3 linked regions of the Homo sapiens genome follow. The protein of the gene in region 2 purifies or fractionates together with the protein of the main gene of each other region. This does not show direct contact. Each region holds a gene or a part of one and is shown on either strand. Other genes may lie near its edges. The genes, in order: SLC30A7, UST and OCIAD1.

Evidence for each region.
Region 1: the proteins of UST (region 2) and SLC30A7 purify together in Homo sapiens (affinity purification with mass spectrometry; 2 studies listed by BioGRID and IntAct, with this or other methods). This does not show direct contact.
Region 3: the proteins of UST (region 2) and OCIAD1 purify together in Homo sapiens (affinity purification with mass spectrometry; 2 studies listed by BioGRID and IntAct, with this or other methods). This does not show direct contact.

Annotation. Positions count from the first base shown.
Region 1 is NC_000001.11:100,894,587-100,898,339, reverse strand, and holds the start of SLC30A7 (zinc transporter 7), read right to left. Parts: upstream 2,251-3,753; 5' UTR 2,078-2,250; coding exon 1,998-2,077; intron 1,771-1,997; coding exon 1,669-1,770; intron 1-1,668. UniProt on the Homo sapiens protein: Zinc ion transporter mediating zinc entry from the cytosol into the lumen of organelles along the secretory pathway.
Region 2 is NC_000006.12:149,019,526-149,023,178, reverse strand, and holds part of UST (uronyl 2-sulfotransferase), read right to left. Parts: intron 1,856-3,653; coding exon 1,698-1,855; intron 1-1,697. UniProt on the Homo sapiens protein: Sulfotransferase that catalyzes the transfer of sulfate to the position 2 of uronyl residues in glycosaminoglycan chains. Has mainly activity toward iduronyl residues in dermatan sulfate, and weaker activity toward glucuronyl residues of chondroitin sulfate.
Region 3 is NC_000004.12:48,858,455-48,862,107, reverse strand, and holds the end of OCIAD1 (OCIA domain-containing protein 1), read right to left. Parts: intron 1,952-3,653; exon of another isoform or gene 1,905-1,951; intron 1,384-1,904; coding exon 1,346-1,383; 3' UTR 293-1,345; downstream 1-292. UniProt on the Homo sapiens protein: Maintains stem cell potency. Increases STAT3 phosphorylation and controls ERK phosphorylation. May act as a scaffold, increasing STAT3 recruitment onto endosomes. Involved in integrin-mediated cancer cell adhesion and colony formation in ovarian cancer.

The sequences.
Region 1 (3,753 bases), on a different chromosome or scaffold from region 2:
CCCAACAGATCTCTACAGATCAAAAGAGTTACTATATACTTAACTTTCCATGAAAGGTGGTTTAGGAACTTCAAGTGTGAATCTCTTGAATGAGATATTTCACAGAGTGACTTATGTAATGGAAAGCCATAGTGAAACACTGCAATAGAAACTATCTGTAGCAAAATATGCATATATAAGCTATGATACACTCTTGATACAAAATATGCATATACAAGCTATGATACACTCTTGATACAAAATATGCATATATAAGCTATGATACACTCCTGATACAATCAGCACATATCCCAAAATTAATTTGGCATAATTTAGGAAGAGAAAAATGTAAAATATACTGTAAATATTATATATTTATGATAAAGTATGATTATTCAAGTACAAGTGCTTTCAACATCTACAGTATATTAAAGTGTGTTAATACTATGGGATTAAAAAATTAATCTATGATGGGGTATCCTTCAAATTAACACATCTGATTCCCAAAGGATTCAAAATGGTTATTACATATATTAAGATTTCATTGTGCCAATATGCCTTTATACCCAACTGTTGACTAAACCAATAACCTTCATAATCTGCTGGTTATTGAGTATTTTTTATAGAACTGAATTGACGGTTGAATTGAAAGAAGCCCAAGCATTATATAAAAGTATACATGTCACAAAACCTGGTGATATTACCTGTCAATGTTTGATCTCAACAGAAGATCAAGGACAGCGATTTTCTCTGAAAATGGGTCTTAAACAACAGAGACTAAGTCTATTTAATAAATAGAAAACAGGTTCTTAATCTAGAGTCCAAGATTTAGTACAGGGAACCCAACAACATCCTGAAGCTTTATGTACAATTCTGAGTATTGGCTTTCATCAGATTTTTGAAGGAGTATGGGATCTAAAGACAGAATTAGTACACCTAGGAGTGTGACAGTCTTGTTAGCAGAACAACTTCATAAGACCTTAAGTTACTCAACAGCAAATACCTGAATAATAGTAACTTCACTGCCACAGAGTTACACACTAGATTTTCCTCCTCCTAAGGATGTTTCAAAAAAAACAAAAACCCTCAAAGGTGCCACCAAAACCCAAGAAATGTTGTTTCTAGAAACTATATGGGATTTTTACATCGCAGTTAAGACTACAGGAAAATCATGAGACAGTTTCGGCATTAAAGAGAGAAGAGAATGACACATATTCCTCCCGATATCACTTTATAAAACCTCCCATTCCAAGCCCCAATAACAAACTAAGTAGAACATCTCAGATATACTCTCTCAGAATCTTAAGGGTGAAATCCAAATGCCACTCCCCCCCGAGAGAGGCAGCAAACAAGTTTCTCCCAATTCCAACAAAGTGGGTAAACCTAAGGCCTACAATTAGAAATGAAAGATTCTGCCCATCTGCTAAAATAAGGAGGGGCTTGTCAGTCTTGTCTGATGGAACTGGAGGGGAGCGTGACAAGAGAGGTTGCACAGGATAGGCCCAGATCTTACTCAAGAACTGTAGCCCTACCAGATTGGTGTGGGTATGAGAAAGCAACTCAGCAGCAGAGGTAGGTAACAAAGGTAGGACCTGAACCTCCTAGTGAGGAGCTACGTGGCATTAAGCAAACAGTGCTTCGTCTCCCTCACACCCAGCTTCCGCCCAAACCATTTTCCCCTTTGGTTACCAGTTGCTCCAGATGCCGTAGAGTAGTTCCACAAAAGCGAAAGAGAGGTTCAGGCACAGGAAGAAAAACAGGTTCCGGGAAGTCTTGTCGGACAGTATAGACCTGGGAATGATACACGTGGAAAAGAGCCGGGAGAGTTAAGGAGGTGCCGGGACCCCGAGGCTGGGTACCCTCTTCAAGACCCTCCCAGTTCACATGCTCCTTTCTTCACAGCTAGGGGTTGACGGGGAGTTTTTGACTCTCCCTCACTGGACCTCGGGCCATCCTGAGGTCTGGGCCTTCTCCCTTTCTGCCGGACACCCCCTCCCCGCAAACACAGCACCCCGCACCTAAACCAGCCCGAGATCTTGCCGAACAAATTGAACTTGGGTGGTTTGTATTCATCGTCTTTGATGGACAGGGGCAACATCTTCTCTGCCCGGCGAAGGGCCGGGTCTACTCCCCTCTAGAAGTGGCTCCGTGGGGTGATGGCAGTGACAGTAGTGACGCCTCAAACGGGAATCCCCAGCGCTTGTCCGGGGCCGCGCGCCGCTGCGAGACACAGACAGACACAGACACACACCCGGGAATTCGCTTACTTCCGGCCCGGGCCGCGCAACGCGTCCTGGGACAGGAAAGGAGGGAGGCCGGTCGCGGGCGGGGCCTGCGCGGCGGAGGGCGTGGCTTGCGGCGGGGGCGGGATGAGAAAGGTGCTGGAGCTGTTGGAGGGACGCCAGGAGGTGGCAACTACCAGGGGGTGTGAGGGGCTGACCTGGGATGGAATCCTGCCACCCGGACTCAGGAAGAAAATCCTGAGGTGGCGACCTGCAGACTGGGCTGGGAGATGGAGAGCCCGCTCACGCCCACCCGACCGCCTACCACCAGTGTTCCCGGATGCATGGGCTCCAGCGCCTGCCCTTTCGCCATTTCCTCCCAACTGGCATTAAATCCTGGTGTGGTAGATATCAGTGATTAAGAGTCTAGGCAGCCACGTGTTCTATTGCCGCCAGTCCGCAGGAAACGCAAGTGATCGTTTTGCTGCGTTAACTCTATGGGCGCCCAAATCTTAGGAATCCATTCCACGCCACCCCGAAAACAGCGCTTGACCCTTCTGGACTGCCACGCAGGAGGCGATCAATGTTTTTCTTTCTTTATTTTTTTAAGAGACAAGGTCTCGCCCTGTCACCTAGGCTGGAGCACAATGAGGCTCACTACAGCCTGGAACTCCCGGACGCAAGTGATCCTCCTCAGCCTCCGGAGTAGCTGAGACCTCAGGCGTGCGCCACCATGCCTGGCATCAATCAATGTCTTTCAAAATAAAGGCTGTTAAACGTAGTATAGGAAAGAAGCTTTTTAATGGTAGGTTCTACCAGACGTGTTTGTTTGATTTTTAGGTTTGGTTAATGCATTGTTTCCCGTACAATCTCAACCCGCGGAAACCCCGAAACTCTAGAATTCGTGCCGGTCTCTTTCGCTTCCAGGTCATCCCCGGGGCAACGGCCGCCGCTCTAATTCTTGTCAGAACCTCCAGGCCAGTTTCAGCAACGTGCAGGCAGAAGCTGGCCCCTCGGTGGGATGCGAGGGCGTGTGGAGCGCGGGGAGGAGAGCCCCACAGGCCTTTCCTGGGCACCCGCGGTGGATGGGAAGGCTCCTTCGGGCGCCTTTCAGGGAAGTTGTTTGGCTGAGGGAAGGTGGTCCGTCACGTGAATGTTTAAAAGTTGTTACCTTGGAGAAGAAATGGAGGAAAGGATTGGCTTTCGGAGGTGGGCTGGAAACTACAAAACCGAGCTTCCTGGGAATGCCTTTTAGGCCGACAGGAAGTGGAGCGTCACCGAAAGGGAGGGGCGGCCACTCGGGGACTGTCCCTTGCTCCAGGCGCTCACTTTGCGGGCGGCACTTTTTCCAGGTTGTTAATCCAGCTAATGGAGAAGGATAGATGCACGCTACTTGGTTTAGAAAAAAAAACAAAAATGAGCAAACGAGACGCCCCTTCCGTTTTATGATAACTAAGCTGCAGGGAAATAAATCGGCTGGCCCTACTGCAATCTACTGCACTCGAGGTAAGGAGACACAGCAAAATGCTCCAGTATTAGTATTTTTCTTTTT
Region 2 (3,653 bases):
CACACACACACCACACACCACACCACACCACACACACACACACACACACACACACACACACACACACACACACACACCATAGAACAAGATAAAGCCAAAAGGAGAAAATGATTAACATAAACCTTTCTTCTTCAAAGGAGTCTAATTTAGGATAAGACCTCTCCTTGCACAAAGAACGGAGTTTATGTTGTCTTCTAGAAATAAAAATCAGTCACATCAAACTCTTTACATTAAAATTCTATAAACTCTTTAAATGGCTTGTTGTTGAAAAGACAAAGGAAATCCTAGTTTCACAACCCCACTCAGGTAAATGGGATTTGAACTCTAATGAGAGCTGGGAGGCTAAGGCAGCCTCCACCAACTATCCACCTTCCTTCAGCAAGTCCCTGATGGTGGTAGGGCCACCTTGACCTTGTGCAACGGGATCCAGGGCTCTCTGGGCAAAGACCAGTTTCCCTGGGCCTTGGGACCTACCAGTGATGCAGGTGGGGTTCGGGAACCCTGTGGAATGTGAGGCAGCAGACTGCATTTGGGGAGCTTTCATCTGCTGCTTCCTTCTTTCTTTCTTTCTTTTTTTTGAGATGAAGTTTCGCTCTTGTCGCCTAGGCTGGAGTGCAGTGGCGCGATCTTGGCTCACTGCAACCTCCACCTCCCAGGTTCAAGCGATTCTCCTGCCTCAGCCTCCCGAGTAGCTGGAATTACAGGCTCCCACCAACACACCTGGCTAATTGTTGTATTTTTAGTAGAGACAGGGTTTCTCCGTGTTGGCCAGGCTGGTCTCGAACTCCTGACGTCAGGTGATCCACCTGCCTCGGCCTCCCAAAATGCTGGGATTATAGGCATGAGCCACCGCACCGGGCCTATCTGCTGCTTATTTCTACAGGGCAGAATGCCTTCTTCCATCTCAGGACAACAAAACAGAACAATAAACAGATCACTGAATGTGTATTCAAGGCTTGTTGTCACAGCAGTAGATTAAGGAGAATAGGAAAAAACAAACAACGTTGTTTGTCTTTCTCTTTGGATAAAATGACAATGAAAAAATAAATGATGGATTTCTGAAAGTAATTATACTTACGATGATACCACAGGCAGCCCTTGTAATTGCTTTGCCACATTCTATTTCTTGCTGCTATTTGGGGACCACTCGGTTTGTTAGGATAAAATCATAATTGTATTTTCAATTTGCTGCTCTATCTATTCCACTGTCAGGATTTGATACACTAGAGTGCTTTTATCAAATGGAAGTTGGGCCAGAGAGAATTCATCACAAGGATGGCTCTTTCATACTCACGCATGTTTCCATCAATGGAGTCCAGGTGCACACACACGGATTCATTTGTACCCACCCCAACAACATGCTCAAGACAAGGCTGATGGAAAATGTTGCCAGTTTCAGTTTCCAGCAACATGCTCAAGACAAGGCTGATGGAGAATGTTGCCAATTTCAGTTTCCATAGGGAGAAATGGAGCCATTAAGCCTTTGGAACATGGTGCTTTTATGTCTGAACATGAAGCTCAAGATTTTGGCATCTGCAGCTCCTGGTTCTAACTTTCCTTTGCAAGCCCAGGGAACTAACTGCCCTTTGTCATCAGAAGAGATCATTTCACTCCTTTATTTCCTGAGGCCTTTTCAAGGTGAGTAGCCCTGGACACAGACCTCTCATGGAGAAGAGCTTGCTTACAAATGAAGTTACCTGGGTCTTTGTAGATACTGAGCACGCCCTTGAAGTAATGAGGTAAAAATCTTTCCAGTAACAGCAGCACATCTTCCAACTCTTCAAGAATCCCCACGAGCAGGAAGTTTTCATTCACGTTCAGCTTTGCTCTCTCAAGGGCCCATTCACCAGGCTCCCTTTATGGATATAAAAATTTATTTAAAATCAGACATTCATATTTGAAATGCAGCAAGATGCTGAGAGTTTACCCCCTCTACCTCCCACCTTCACTTGCATAAGTCCAAATCCTGTTTCCCTCAAGGACCAGCCCAGATGTAGCCCCATCCAGGGCCTTCCCAGTCCTTCCAACTGGTGTCCTGCCCTGCTCACCATTCCTTCTCTGTCACTTTCATCCATGCTTCATGCCAAGCCCAGGGCCTTGAATTCAGAGGCCCTGCCTAAGTATTGTGGACGAATGAATGCAGGCACAAGCAGTTAGGTTCTAACAAATACTAATCAAGGGGTGAGTAGAATGGTTTTTTAATAGGAGGACCAAACTGAACCAATTAAATGAATTTAGGAGTTTTGAAATATGAAACTTACCGACATAGTATTTATGTAGAACTCAAAAGAGCTGTCAGGTCATGCCTATTAATCATCTTATTCTTTGGAAGAGTTAAAGAGGAATCTTTGGATTTTTGTTTTGTTTTATTTTGTTTGTCTAGATTGCAGAAGGAAAACAGCCTAATTTGTAAAAATCAGAGAGCTGATTTGTAGGCCAGCTCTCTGAACTGACACTAAGGCGAGTGAGAAAAGCCCGGGAGTGGGGCTCCAGGCCTGGCTGTCATTTATCATTTGGGGGAATTGGGCAAGCCAGGGTTCTCTTTTGAAAAATGGTAAAAATCACCCTTACCTAGTTCAAAGCATTGTTGTAAAGACTGTGCAAGGTGATATGATGAAAGAGTTATAAAAATCATTGTGTGTGTATCAAGGTGTGGTGTCATGAGTCACCTCTCCAAGATTAGAAAATTCAAAAATCTGAAAAATACTACACGATTTAAAAAATACTTTAGGGAGTTCAAATCATGTTTCCTGTTATAAAGATATTCACTGTGATCAGCAAGTGAGTCATCCAGCCCCAAATCTTCCCAATACCTGAAGCACTAAATGTTAACCAGGAGGTATTTGTTATTGAGGCAAGGGTCGGGGGCAGGGGAGAGGCCACCTGGACTCAGGGGGCTTATGGTGAAGTCAAAAACCAACACTCCTAGTTCTATAATTTGGACTATAAGCAAACTCTTTTGTTATGGCAAATGAAACAAGACAGGAATAACAACAATACGCCTAAAAACGAAGCAGAAATCATAGCATAAGCAAAAAGGTACAATGAATGCGTTGCCGGTGTAGAAGTAGCAGTTCTCCTTTGGCCTTTTCAGAAACACAAGGACCCTCTAGTTAATGTTTCCTTTGGGGAATAATGTCACTTCTGATAGCAGGGGTTGATTTCCTACCAAGCAAATATAATGCTTCATTGTTGCTGCCATTTCTTCTCCAGGCTATGACATTTGTCTAGCACAGTAGATTTCAACTATAGCTACGCCAGAAGCATCTGGGGAGGCTGCTACACACGAGACTATGATTGGGTGGGGGTTCTTAACAAGTATACAGGGGTGCTGATGCAGGACCTGGGCAGATCACACCCTGGGGGTCCTGACTATCTGAGTAAGTCACTCTCTAAAGAAGGTTGTGCCTTCAAGTAAGGTTGACAGGTGATCATTATAAAACACTTTCTTCTCTGCCTACTAAGTATATCCACTATGGGATTGAGGTGTGGGCTTCCAGTGTCTCAGACCCAGTGACACATGCTACGAGGGCAGGTTGTTGGTTAAGTCAGTCACTGTACAGGAGCAGGCTGGGTGTTCGCTCCTGGTCTTCACGATCACATTTTATGTGACATTTTGTCATTTTATCCAAAGAGAAAGACAAACAACATGG
Region 3 (3,653 bases), on a different chromosome or scaffold from region 2:
AGGTTCCTAACGTCCACTATAAAATGGTGTAGTATTTACATATAACCAATGCACATCCTCCTATATACTTTAAGTCATTTATAGATTACTTGTAATGCCTAATGTAAATGCTATGTAAATAGTTATTACAATGTATTGTTTGGGAATAACAAGAGTTCAGTACAGACAACCATCCATTTCTCTCCCTCAAATATTTTCAATCTGCAGTTGATTGAATCTGCAGATACGGAACCCACAGATACGAAGGGTCACTGTACACCAATTTTTCTTTTTAACATAATATCAGTCTCTGTGATGTATACCAAATTTTTATTGTTTTAGAATTTACAAATTCTTTAAAAATGCTTTTTAAGGCATTTACCTATTTACTATATTATCAATTTATCTACATAAATCACATTCATTATATTTTTATTTTTTTAGACACAGGGTCTCACTCAGTCGCACAGGCTGGAGTTCAGTGGTGTGACCACAGCTCACTGCAACCCAGAACCACTGGGTTCAACTGATCCTCCCAACTCAGCCTCTTAAGTAACTAGGACTACAGGCACACGACACCATCGCCAGCTAATTTTTATTTTTTTGTAAAGACAGGGTCTCGCTTTGTTGCCCAGGCTGGTCTCAAACTCCTGGACTCATGCAATCCTCCCACTTCGGCCTCCCAAAGTGCTGGGATTACAGGCATGAACCACTGCCCACTGCCTCCAGCCATATTATAGATTTATAGCCATATTATAGCCATATTATAGAAATATTATAGATGACTTTATTTCCTATACCTACATGATTATAACTAGCTTAAAAATAAATCAATAAATTACAAACAATAAAACCATAAAATCAAGGAAGATGAGGGCTGTTGCATGTTCCTTTACATTTTATTTGCCATAAACATTAAGATAATACAGAAAATACTGGAGAAAAAAAGCTTTTTAATAATTTCTTGATGCAAAGCTTCACACTTAAAAATTATGCTTGCTCCCCCCATCCACCCCAATTCAACATGCAGATATCATTTATTTTCTTATATGCTGATTCTAGAGCATTGTAATCTCGACGGTTTTTTAAGAGTTATCTTTGCCCTTGCAACAATTTCACAAACTGTATACAATCATGGTATAATACCATCATTCAAATGAATCCCTAAGGTGAGTACATTTACACAATATTAACACTAAAAATCTGTGTTTTTTTAAAACACCATAGAAGTCAAACCACAAAAACCCAGGATCTTGTTTTAAATGTGTTTATGAAGACTGCTGCTGAGCTCAAAGCATGCAGGTAATCATGACCACCTAGATGAAGCTGGATGTTGAAACTCCTTCATGTCCAATGATGTAATTTTTCACTCATCCCAAGTATCTCCATACTTGTTTACTTTGACTAGGAAAAAAGCATAAATAATTGATGATTCCAAGCAATAATAAGTAAAAGACATTATTTTAAGTTTGTTGCTATGATGAAAAGTTATGTTTCTCTCTCATTTGAATAAAAGCACATGAGAGTCAAATTATAATTACAAAAAGGGGATGACCAGACTTTTGTGAACTTGGGGTTGGACAAATGCATTGTATCTAGAATTTTACATAAATAGTTAGTCCTCATAACAAACTTCTAAACACAATTCTCATTTTAATGGTGAGAAAAAAGATTAGTAACTTGCCCAAGGTACAAGCCCTAACAAGAACTGAGATTTGAGTATAGGTCTGTTTAGATCCAAAGCCTAGGTACCTTTACATCTTTACCATACTACCTAAGTGTGGCACATATTAAGCCATATACAAAAAAAAAAAAAAATAGTGGGAAATAATAAAACAAACATTTGAATTTTCGTTTTTCACAAAAAATACAGCAGTAGAAATGGTCAAGTGTTCAAGTTGTAATTAATTCAATCTTCTCTCTCAGGGCTGTAAATACTACTATAAGAAGAAAATACTACTACATTTTACAGGTACTCTATATTTTACATTTTAAAACATGCTCCGCTGTCTATTCTACTCCTTTACTTTTTTGCTTCTCTTCCACATAGCTTCTGTCTGTGAGTAATCATAACAATATAAAGCAGCAGTTATCACAGTGTGGACTCTTCAGGGAATACATGAAGTCAAAATTATTTCATTATTATACTAAGACATTATATATCCTTATGTTTCACATTTTGCCTTTTCCCCTTGCTCTCATTCCCTCATGAGTATATGTTACATGGTTTTCTAGAAGCTACAGGATGTGTGGTGACATTGCTCTGGCAGCTAATGGAATATGTGCTTGAATTTTTTAAATTTCTGGGTCTTAATTTCTAATTAGATAAATATCAACCACATAAGCTAAAGGTGAAAACTTTAAGTGACACTTTCTGACCATGTGAATCTACCCTGTACTAATTTCAACAATAATTCAGAAAATGACTGAAACTATTTCATAACAAGTCTTTTCTTTAAATTATATAAAGCACACAAAAAACCAGCTTTTCCCAAAAAAAGAAAAAATCATTTCACATTCTTGTGTCATGTAACAGAACTTGAAGACTTCAGTCAAAAATCAAAAATGTCAAAATCCAGCAAATGTTAAAGGTCTACCAAATTTCCTTTCTTAACCTCTATTACCATAGAAGCCTAAACCAAAATACTCAATTTCTGATACAGTGTAAAGTACTATGCTATGCAGACAATAATAGAAAAGATTACAAAAATGAGAAAAATATTACTTTCTGCCCTCACAGAGCTTACAATCTAAATCCTCAAATTAATTAGCAGGACAAAGTACCGACAAGTCTTTACATATTACAGAGCAATGGCCACTAGATGCAGTTTATGCTAAATGTTGTTTGATGACAAACATTCAAAAGTATGGTACATCCCTAATTCATTTCAAAGGTAGATTTTTTTTACATCAATAATATGATGCAGATATTATCTATCATTGTTATAAAAACAGAACTCCAAACGAAGCAACCGCTAATGATTAAAAATAAAATTAGCTCTAAAAAATGACCATAACAACAAATACTAAGGACTTTCATGTATTTTTGCATTCTTTGTGGCATATGACCTTCAAGAAGGTACCAAAGACCTATTATTTCCATTTTTAAAGTAGTAAATAGAAAATCTTGAAACAATGACACATACTCTGAAATTCCTTAAGAGAAAATCATAAAACCCTATACTGAAATAGCTATAAAACCCTATTCGAATGTCCTCTTCCTTTAGAGGTAAACTTGTATCAAAAAATTTACTTTGGCTAATGTATAGCTATTCCAAAAAGACTTAAAAGAAACCAGGATTTAAAAATTCATCTTTAAGAAATGCCTTAGAAGCTGGCATATAACTCTTTCAAATTCACAAATGTACAAGAAAGGTCAGGCACAGTGGCTCCCACCTATAATCCCAGCATTCTGGGAGGCCAAGGTGAAAGGACTGGTTGAGCCCAGGAGTTTGAGACCAGCCTTGGCAACATAGGGAAAAACCCACTGCACCAAAAAAAATTTTTAACAGCCAGGGATGGTGGCATACAACTGTAGTCCCAGCTACTCAGGAAGCTGAGGTAGGAGGACTGCTTGAACCCAGGAGGTCAAGACTGCAGTAAGCCATGATTACACCACTGCACTCCAGCCTGGGTGACAGAATAAAACCATCTCAAAAAGAAAAAACAAACAA